Linked DNA regions of Homo sapiens: region 1 is linked to region 2. A link means that fine-mapping ties the variant in region 2 to the plasma level of a protein whose gene starts in the linked region. Region 2 holds a variant in brackets. A gene starts in the other region. All regions are shown on their reverse strands.

Region 1 (5,332 bases), not on the chromosome of region 2:
TGGGTGTGGGTTTCAATTCCTTTTTAGCCATCTTATTTTTATTGTGGCACACCTGAGGCCTGGGAGCTCATTATAGAAGGATACATTCAAATGTGAACATTTTTCTCCTTGGGCTTATTCAACAGATATATTGATATATATAATATGTAAAAATGTATTGAGCGCTTAAAATACTCTAGGTACAGTTTTGCATGTGGAAATTTGTGAAATGGTATATAAGGTCCCTGCCACATAGGTTCACACTCCAGTGAGAGAAGTTAGAATCAGGCCAGAGGGACAATGGAGGGTGGGAGGAACTCTGTAAAATCCCTGCACTTGAGGGGCAAGTGGAGAATGAGAATCCATAAAATGCTGTAGAGAAATAAGTGAAACTAGAAGACATTAGTTCCATGAAAGTCAAGGGAAGAGAGTCAGAAAGAAAAGAATCCAGACAATGTTGGATGTTTTAGATAATTCAAATAAGAAAACAGAAGAATCCATGGGTTTGATAGTATGAAAATCATGGGTGACCTTGAGAAGAGCAAAATGTAGTGAGTTTGGAAATGAAGAGGTGGAGGTGAGGATATGAAAAGAATTAATCTTAGTTCAGAATGGAAAGACAATTTAGGAGAAAGAGCCAGAGGAAGAAAGACCATGAAGATACAAATAAAGCAAAATGGAATAGACAGGAGTAAACACAGATGGAGACAGGAGGGACAGGAGGAAACTCTGAGGTAAGAAACAGGATGAACTTGAATGTGGAGATGTCAGAAGTTGTTTAGACTTCAAGTTTCGTGCCCTTTTACATTCTCGGTGAAACTGGAGGTGAAGTCATCTGCTAGGGGTTTGGGAGCTGTGTTGAGCACTTGACTTAAGAAGAGTGAGTTTTAAAAGCCATCTTGGGCAAGTGGAATAGAAGATTATTTAAAATGAGAGATAACACTATTGGACTGTGCTAGAATCTAGCTGAAGTTTGAAAATTCCCATGGCTAGAAGTAACTCTTATACCCCAGCTTTCTAATTCAGAAGACCTAAGCCTGTATACACCACTGCAGCAAACATTTATGGCCAAGTTTATCTACACACATCTCACAGGCTAAAGAGAACAAGAAGCTGATATTGTGTTCAGGGACATCCTTAGCAATGTTTGAGTTTACAGGGGTTGCCCCACAGGCCTCAGCATCCCCTTAGTCTTTCAGCTTCTTTTCCTGCCCCCTGGTCCCAGTCTTGAGAGGAGCTATAAGGGCCCCATTCTGCCTGGATAACCATGAAGCTCCTTCATGAAAGGTGGTCCTGCCATTGTTGGACACTAGAATTAGAGGCTACCCAGGATTCTCTGAGACACAGCCAAGGCCAGTATTCCCCTGAGTGACCCTAAGTAACCTCTGAGAGAGAGCTGAGGGGTGGCATCAGAGAGCCCTGAATCTCACTGAGCCCCAGAATCTGTCTGGTCCCAGAGATAAGCAGAGTGGAGGCTGGTCCTGCCTATCCTGCTGTCAGGTTAGGCTGGTTCCAGCAGTAGAATGTAGGTAGAGAAACTCTGTACTGATAGTTCTCAGTTTGGGTTCACAAAGTGACTCCTGTTTATCATAAAAGGAGGGGCTGTGGAAAGCCCCCAAGAAATTAGCTGATCCAAACTTAGTTCTGCTGCACAAGCACATGGAGCTAGAGTGGCTCCCCCACAGAGAGCAGAGTTGAGAGCCTTAACCCTACTCACCACCACACTGCACCGGGGGTCCTGGGGCTATGTTGAGAAAAAGCTCACCTACCCAGTGGATTTCAAAAGGCCTAGGCAATCCCATTAGCTTGTACTAGCTAGGGTATTCAAGAAAGTCCACTTTGATAAAGTGACATTTAAGCAGGGATATGGAGGAAGTGAGAAAAGGAGCCATGCTGATATCTGGGGGAAGAATTGGCTAGGCTGAAGGAGCAGCAAGTGCAAAGACCAGAGTCTTGAGCATGCTTTGAGTGTTGGAAAAAATATCAAGGCCGCCAGTTGGGGTTGGGTATGGTGGTCAAGGCGAGTGGTAAGAGGTGAGATCAGAGATAGAGGGGCAGGTTAGTGAGGATGGGATGGCGTGGGATAGATTGTAGACTATTATAGACCATAGTTAAGGATTTTGGGTTTTCTGCTGAATAAGAAGCCAACCAGTAGAATTGCTTGGACAGACTTAGACTGATGTACTTTTAAAAGGATCATTCTGGTTGCTCTGCTGAGAATTGACTGGAGTGGGGTAAGCATGAGAGCAAGGAGAGCTATTGGAGGATATGGCAATAATTCAGGTGAAAAGTAATCGTGGCTTGCACCAGAGTGGTTGCAGTGAAGGTGCTAAGAAGTTGGTGAAATTCAGAGTTTATCTCTGAGGCAGGAGGCAGAGCTGATAGGATGTGCTGATGGGTTGAATGTGAGGTGTGAGCAAAAGGAGAGGGGAGGATAATTCTAATGATTGTGGCTTCATAGATTATGAAGATAAAATGAATTAATTCATGAAAAAAATTTGAGCAGTGCCTGGCAAGTGCTTAGTGAGGGCCAGCTAACTGTTATAGTATTATTGGACAAGTTATGGTGGAGGACAGTGGTTTCATATTTGCTGCTTATAATCACTTTCCACAATAGCTTGTGGACTCTGACATATCCCTGGTACCTCTATCTCAAGTTTCCTCCTGTACTTCCAGGCAGAATCACAGAGTACAAGGAGCCTCTTCATCTACAAAATGAGGATGGTAACCTCAACCTCATAGAATGGTTGTAAGGTATAAAGGGACACATATGCATGATTTATAGGTGCTCAGTAAATGTTATTCTTGTCCACCTTCTAAACCTTTGCTACTAAAACTATGGTCTGTGGCCCAGCACCATCAATATCACCTGGAAGCAGTTAGAAAATCAGAGTCTTAGTCCCACACCACAGCTGCTAACTCAGAATCTGTGTTTTAACAAGATCCTTAGGTGATTTGTGTGCACATTAATATGAGAGAAGCACGGCTCTAGCGTTTCAAGGTCATCCAGTCCAACAGTCTCTTCAGGATACAGATGCAGAAAGGAAAACTAAGAGAGAGGAAGAGATTTACATGATGTTACACTTAGTTTTGTCAAGACATCTAAATTCCAAGCTAGGGTTCTTTACACTAAAGTTTCAAAACTGTCTGTAATTCAGCTTCTCTGGGTAGGAAAGGATGGAGAAAAAGAAGAGGTCCTGTTTTCTAGGAAAGGACAGAACAGAATTAGGAGGTACCCAGGGTAGCTATTTTCATTTGAATCTCACAGATGATTTCAGAGGTCCCTAAATTGCATTCATGTATTTATTTATATTTAATAAACACTTCTATACCACTACGTCCCAGAAATCATTCTAAGCTCCTTACGCATATGAACACTATTTTGTATATTAACTCATATAATACCTAAAACAATCCTATGAGTAAGGGATTGTTATTTTCCCCACTTTACAGAAGAGAATCCTGAGCCACAGAGTGGTTAAGTAACTTGCCTTAGGTCACAAAGCTAGTAAGGGGCAGACCTAGGATTCCAATTCTGGCAGTTTTCCCTTCTACTAGGCCTGAGCCCACAGTAGCCTATTCTGGTCTTAACTCTAGCTAGGGGACAGATATGAAGTTCATTTAGGACTTTTTCTACTTCAGCTTAGGGCCTATTCAGCCCTTTCCCACCAAAGGCTTTTCAGCTGCTTTACTGAGACTCCACCCTGAGCTGGCATATAGCCTCTGCCCAGTACAGGAGGGGTCCCTCAGAGACTGATAATGGCTCATTTCTTGGTCCTCTCCCCCATACCTTGGCTCAAGCTTTTCTTTTCCTCTACCCATTAGGCTATTTCCTCTTTGACCTCTTTTAAAAGCTCCTAATCTATTGAAAAGCATTTGCTTTCCTTGTCAGACTCTTTTTTACTCCTTCTTCCTACTGGCCCCCAAACCCTTCCAGTCTGCACCTCATAGTTTGGCCCTTAATTCTCTGTCTCTGTCCGGTCTACTTTATCTTCCCAGCTCTGCAAACTCTTCAAGGTCAGGGACTAGTAACGTTTCGGGATTTATCCACCGCTGCCTCTGAGATCATGGATTAATAAACTCCCAAAGTGTCATTGTTTGAAGTGCCCTTAGAGACTACGTAGCTCAACCCCCTCCTTGTACAGACACTCAGGGGCCCAGAGAAGATGGATGATCAAAGCTGAGTGCCGAATCCAATTTTCCTTTATTTTTAGTGGTCTTTTCCCTGCTTCATGTCTGCTCTCTTCCTCCTGTCACAATCCTATCTACCCTTCTGAATGGAGGAGTATTTTTTTGAGGCAGATGCAGAGCTGGAAAGCGGCTTCTCCATGTGTCTGAAAATTTTGGCTTTTCCAACAATAATTTTCCCTGTCAAACTCCAAGCCTGCTAAGTCATGAATAAACTTTGATGAGCTGAGCTGCATTCAGCTGTGAAAGAGACAACTTGATGCTTTCTCTGGACCCCACTCCCTGGCCCTCTACTCTCTGGCCCCCGCTTCAGTCCCAGGAGATTTGCAGCTCCTGCCATACCAGTGGCTGGGTCACTGTTCTTCAGCCTCACATTGTTCCTCTCAAAGGCAGTTTCTTTTCGTAGCCACGCCTAGGCACTCAAACAGTCCAATAGCTGCTCTAGGAACTTCACGGGGGCGGAAGAGGTAAGCTTACCGTGAAAGGAGGGTTTGGGCTGTTGTTGCTACACGTGGATGTGAAATGAGTCAAGCGGAACTTTGATTACAAGGAATTTCATATACTGTGAGTGTGTATGCAGGCTGGGGGCTGAGGGGCGGGGGCTGAGGGGCGGGGCTGATGGGCGGGTCTGAGGGGCGGGGGCTGAGGGGCGCGGGGTGAAGGGCGGGGGGTGACGGGAGGGGGCTGGGTGAGATGTGTGCTCTGCGCTGAGGTGGATTTGTACCGGAGTCCCATTTGGGAGCAAGAGCCATCTACTCGTCCGTTACCGGGTGAGTGTGGGAACACCCCCTGGTGTGGCAAGGCGGCTGGGACCTGCGGCATCTAGGTGCAGAAGTACAGAATCAGGTCAGGATGATCCTGCTAGGGTACCGCAAAATCAGAACAATTGGGAAGGCGCCCTGTGGCTGGCTGTCAGTCCATCCATTTGTGTCCGGAGAGCGCTTTCTGAGGTATCAGGGATCTGGGCTGACATCTCTAGGATCTTGGCGAGCCATTTCCTGTAGGCTCTTACTGGACCTGCATTGCCTCTGAGAACATGCCTGGACGTGTCCAACAACCTTGAGCATCTAGGGTTGGGAGATAAAGAAGAGAAGGAGGCTGGGTGTTAGTGAAGGCGGGGACAGTGGATCAGACTTGTGGAGCATCCTGAGGAAAGCAGAACTGC
Region 2 (5,380 bases):
TGGTAGGCTATTTATTACTGCCTCAATTTCAGAACTCATTATTGGTCTATTCAGGGACTCAACTTCTTCCTGGTTCAGTCTTGGGAGGGTGTATATATCCAGCAATTTATCCATTTCTTCTAGATTTTGTAGTTTATTTGCATAGAGGTGTTTGTAGTATTTTCTGATGGTTGTTCATATTTCCATTGGCGTCAGTGGTGATATCCCCTTTATTGTTTCTAATTATATCTATTTGATTCTTCTCCTTCTTTTCTGTATTAGTGTAGCTAGTAGTCTATCTATTTTACTTTTTTTTTTTTTTCCCAAAAAAAACAGCTCCTGAATTTGCTGATTTTTTTAAGGGTTTTTGATGTCTCTATCACCTTTATTTCTACTCTGATCTTGGTTATTTCTTGTCTTCTGCTAGCTTTGGGGATAGTTTTTTATTTGTGATGTTAGGGTATTGACTTGAGCTCTTTCTGGCTTTTTGATGTGGGCATTTAGTACTATAAATTTTCCTCTTAACACTGCTTTCGCTGCATTCCAGAGATTCTGGTGTGTTGTCTCTTTGTTCTCATTGGCTTCAAAGAACTTCTTGATTTCTGCCTTATTATTTACCCAGGAGTCATTCAGGATCAGGTTTTTCAATTTCTACGTAGTGGTGTGGTTTTGAGTGAGTTTCTTAATCTTGAATTCTAATTTGATTGCACTGTGTTCTGAGAAACTGTTATGATTTCAGTTTTTTGCATTTGCTGAGGAGTGTTTTACTTCAGATTACATGTTCAACTATAGTAAGTTCTTTGTGGTGATGAGAAGAATGTATATTCTGTTGAATTTGGGTGGAGAGTTTTGTAGATATCTATAAGATCCACTTGATTCAGATCTGAGTTCAGGTCCTGAATATTTTTGTTAATTTTCTGTCTCTATAATCTGTCTAATATTGTCAGTGGGGTATTAAAGTCTCCCACTGTTATTGTAGGGGAGTCTAAGTTTCTCTGTAACTCTCTAAGAACTTGTTTTAAGAATGTGGGTGCCCCAGTATTGGGTGCATATATATTTAGGATAGTTAACTCCTCTTGTTTAATTGAACCCTTTACCATTATGTAATGCCCTTCTTTGTGTTTTTAATCTCTGTTGGTTTAAAGTCTGTTTTGTCAGAAACTACAAAAAAACCCTGCTTTTTTCTGTTTTCCATTTGCTTGGTAAATTTTCATCCATCCCTTTATTTTGAGCCTATTTGTGTCTCTGCATGTGAGATGGGTCTGTTGAATATAGCATACTGATGGGTCTTGACTCTATCCAGTTTGCCATTTTTTGTCCTTTAATTGGAGCATTTAGCCCATTTACATTTAAGGTTAATGTTTTTCTTTGTGAATTTGTTCCCGTCATCATGATGCTAGCTGGTTATTTTGTAGATTTGTTTATGTAGTTGCTTCATAGTGTTGTTGGTCTGTGTACTTCAGTGTGTTTTTGTAGTGGCTGGTAACGGTTTTTCCTTTCCATATTTAGTGCTTCCTTCAGGAGCTCCTGCCAGGCAGGCCTGGTGGTGATGAATTCCCTCAGCATTTGCTCATCTGAAAAGGGTCTTATTTCTTTTTTGCTTATAAAGCTTAGTGTGGCTGGATATGAAATTCTGGGTTTGAAATTCTTTTCTTTAAAAATGTTGAGCCAGGTGCGGTGGCTCACGCCTGTAATCCCAGCACTTTGGGAGGCCGAGGTGGGCGGATCATGAGGTCAGGAGAGCAAAGGTGGCAGCCTGCTCCTTCCCAGAGGAACATTGACCTGATTCAAGCCCAAATGCTGCTGGAGGTGTCTGGAGACCCCTGTTGGGAGGTCTCATTCAGTCAGGAGGGATAGGATTGGGGGGACCTGCTTGAAGAAGTAGTCTGGCTGCCCCTTGGTGGAGTTGGTACACTGTTGGGGAGAACCCCTGTCATCTGGACTGCCCAGACTCTCCAAAGCCAGCAGGCGGGAAAGGCTGTCGGCTGAACTGCAGAGACCATGGCTGCCCCTCCCCCAAGGGGCTGCATCCCAGGGAGATCAGAGTTCTGTCCATTAAACCCTGGCTGGAGTTGCTGAAATTCCCACAGGGAGGCCCCACCCAGTGAGGAGGAATGGGTCGGGGTCCCATGTAAAGAAGCAATCTGGCCACAACCTGCCGTAGCTGCTGAGCTCCACTGTGGGGAATCCCTCCCGGTCCAAACCACCCAGTCTCCCCAGCATTAGGAGGGCAAAATAGCCAACTGGAGCTGCAGAGATGGCAGCTGCCCCTTTCCCCAGGAACTCGGTCATCTCAGGCAGTCTCCAGTCGCTGCCACTGGCCCATGGGGATTTCTAAGCCAGTGGGTCTTAGCTGGTAAGGTTTTGTGGGAGTGGAGCCCACTGAAAGATGCCCCTTGGGTTCCTGGCTTCAGCCCCCTTCCTACAGGAACAGACAGATCTCCTGCCTCACAGGAATTTTCAAGCTTCAGCATGCAAAAACTCCTGCATCTCTGTGCCTTCCCGAGCAGCTGCTGACTGGAGTGGCCACCAGGTCTGCACAGCTCTGTGCCTGGGACCCAAGGCCCTGGTGGCATAGGCTCAAGAAGGAATCTCCTTGTTTGAAATGCTTG[C/T]TCCCCAGTGCCGTAAAGAAATAGCACTTGAACATACATTTAATTTACTCAGCAAGGCCATTTTTACTTACTGCAGAAAAGGTATGCTTGCCAGCAGTTTTGCCATGAGAGTACACCAAACAAAGAAGACAGGGTCATTTATAACCTGACGCATCCACCCTACTGCTGTGTCTGGTTTCCATCGGCTGGCACGGGACCTCACATCCTGTATTTGTTCCGATCGGCTAGCAACTTAGAACTTTCTTAAAGAGGCAAAGGTAGAGGGGAACAAAGGAAGGAGGAAGTAACTGGTGGAATGCTGAGAAAGGTAAAAAGCACCTTCACATAAGGAAGAGGAACAGGCTATCACCTAATGCTTGCTTGGACCAGCATAAGCATGCTAGGGCAAATATTTAGGCTAAATTGTGACATAAAGTACTTTGATTTCTTTACCACGGCTAGCAGATATTTAAGAATGTTAGCACAGGTCTTTGAATAAATTTTGCTTCTAAGAGAAGTTACTATTTATTCCTAATTAAATGGGGAGGAAAATCTTTGAAGAGGAACCTCTACTTTACTTTTTACATCCTGATCTATGGGTTGCAAAGATCCATGGGAAAAGTGTGATTTCCTGGGTGGGGTAGTGCAATCCCTCACGGCCTCCCTGGCCTGGGAGCGGGCGATCCCCTTGCTCCATGCAGCTCCCAGGTGGGCTGTCGCCCCACCTTGCTTTTCCTTGCTCTCCATGGGTCACTGCCTAGCCAGCATCCAATATCAACTGGATATCTCAGTTGAAGGTATAGAATGCACTTACCATTTTCATTCTTCTTGGTGAGCGCTGAAGACTGCAGCTGCTTCTAATCAGTAATTTTGTCCCTTCCCTCTAAAAGTTTTTTGTAGGAGGGAGGGGCCAAGATGGCCAATTAGAAGCAGCTGGAGCTATAGGTGTGCTGCTACTCAGGAGGCTGAGGCAGGAAGATTGCTTGAGCCCAGGAGCTTGAGGCTGCCGTGAGCTGTGATCGTGCCACTGCACTCCAACCTAGGTGACAGAGCAAGACCCCATCTCTAAAAGAAAAAGAATATCCATAAGGAATGATAAACGTATGCATGATTGTGAGAGTTAGAGTTTTCCAGATAAAGAGAACCAAGAGAATATATATATATATGTATATATGAAAAGATTTATGAGAAATTGGCTTATGGATTATGGAGACTAAGAGGTTTCAAAATCTGCTGTCTGCAAGCTGAAGACCCAGGAAAGCCAGTGTTGTAATTCCAATTTGAGTCAACGGCCTGAGAACCAGGGAGCCTATTTAAAACTGCATAAAACTGCAAGCCGTACATTTGCAGCAACTTGGATGGAGTTGAAGACCATTATTCTAAGTGAAGTAACTCAGGAATGGAAAATCAAATATTGTATGCTCTCACTTATAAGGGAGCTAAGCTATGAGGATGCAAAGGCATAAGAATGATATAATAGACTTCTGGGACTCGGGGCGGGGGAAGGGTCGGAGGGGCGTGATGGATAAAAGACTATACAGTGGGCCGGGTGCAGTAGCTCATGCCTGTAATCCCAGCACTTTGGGAGGCCGAGGTGAGCGGATCACAAGGTCAAGCGATCAAGACCATCCTGGCCAACATGGTGAAACCCTGTCTCTACTAAAAATACAAAAATTAGCTGGGCGTGGTGGCACGTGCCTGTAGTCCCAGCTGCTTGGGAGGCTGAGGCAAGAGAATCGCTTGAACCTGGGAGGCGGAAGTTGCAGTGAGCCAAGATCACGCCACTGCACTCCAGCCTGGTGACAGAGCAAGGTTCTGTCTAAAAACAAAACAAAACAAAAAAATCTATACATTGGGTACAGTGTACACTGCTCAGGTACCAAAATCTTAGTGCACCAAAATCTCAGAAATCCCACTAAAGAACTTATCCACGTAACCAAGAACCACCTGTTTCCTCCAAAATAATGAAGAAAAAAAAATACCCTGCAAGCCTTAAATATCATTAAGATATTTAATTCCTTAAATGTCTAACAGCACCAGACACGAGGATGATTATTGGATTGGGGAACAGAACAGGAGCCAATTCTTAAAGGTAGTCTTGCTTCCTTGAGCAGCAGAACCCTTGCTACTCAGACCTTCTTCCTCCTCTTTGTCCTTCCTCCTCTTTGTGTGCCAGGTTGGGCTGGCAGTATAGCCACAAATATGGGGGCTACTCACCACCAAAGAGGAGGCCTAGCACTCTGTGGGCAGGACTGGTCCCTGTGAAATCAGAGGAAAACCAGACTGTGGCCACAGTCACACTCCTCTGGCTTCTTTCTCTTTGTTAAGTTCCCAAACATTGGCCTGTTGTTGGTTGACCCAAAGACCACTCTCAGGTTCAATGACTGGCTGGAAGGACTTACAGAACTCAGAAAAGTTGTTATAGGCTGGGTGTGATGGCTCAAGCCTATAATTCCAACACTTTGGGAGGCTGAGTTGGGAGGATAGCTTGAGACTAGAAGTTAGAGACCAGCCTGGACAACATAGCAAGATCCCATCTCTAAAAAAATTAACAACAACAACAAAATAGCCAGATGCAGGCCATACACACCTGGAGTCCCAACTACTCAGGAGGCTGAGGCAGGAGGATCACATGAGCACAGGAGTTTGAGGTTGCAGTGAGCTATGATTGTGTCATTGCACTCCAGCCAGTGACAATCAGAGCGAGACCTCATCTAAGAAAGAAGAAAGAAAGAGAGAGAGAGAAAAGGAAGGAAGGAGAAGAGGAAGGGGAAGGGGAAGGAAGGAAAGGAAAGCAAGCAAGCAAGCAA

Which allele goes with the higher level. Positions count from the first base shown, and alleles are read on the strand shown. Strength reflects both the effect of a copy and how common the allele is.
With allele C in place of T in region 2, the plasma level of the protein whose gene starts at base 4,854 in region 1 is higher (weak association).

The links. PIP is the posterior inclusion probability: the model's chance that the variant is causal. The UK Biobank Pharma Proteomics Project read protein levels with antibody pairs (Olink). The fine-mapping took linkage between variants from a reference panel, not from the people measured, so its PIPs are less certain.
Region 1: it holds the start of EDA2R, and the variant in region 2 is fine-mapped to the plasma level of the EDA2R protein (UK Biobank, PIP above 0.99).

Annotation. Positions count from the first base shown.
Region 1 is chrX:66,638,600-66,643,931 of GRCh38, reverse strand. EDA2R (ectodysplasin A2 receptor) reads left to right here and starts at 4,854. Exons shown (of 7, transcript NM_021783.5): 1 at 4,854-4,937. RefSeq lists an enhancer at 5,034-5,332.
Region 2 is chr1:248,894,719-248,900,098 of GRCh38, reverse strand. It overlaps a transcript of PGBD2 not described here. Among named protein-coding and RNA genes, the nearest start is that of PGBD2, 8.8 kb to the left of the region's middle. RefSeq lists a silencer at 4,045-4,227. The variant C/T (reference allele first, on the strand shown) is at 2,592.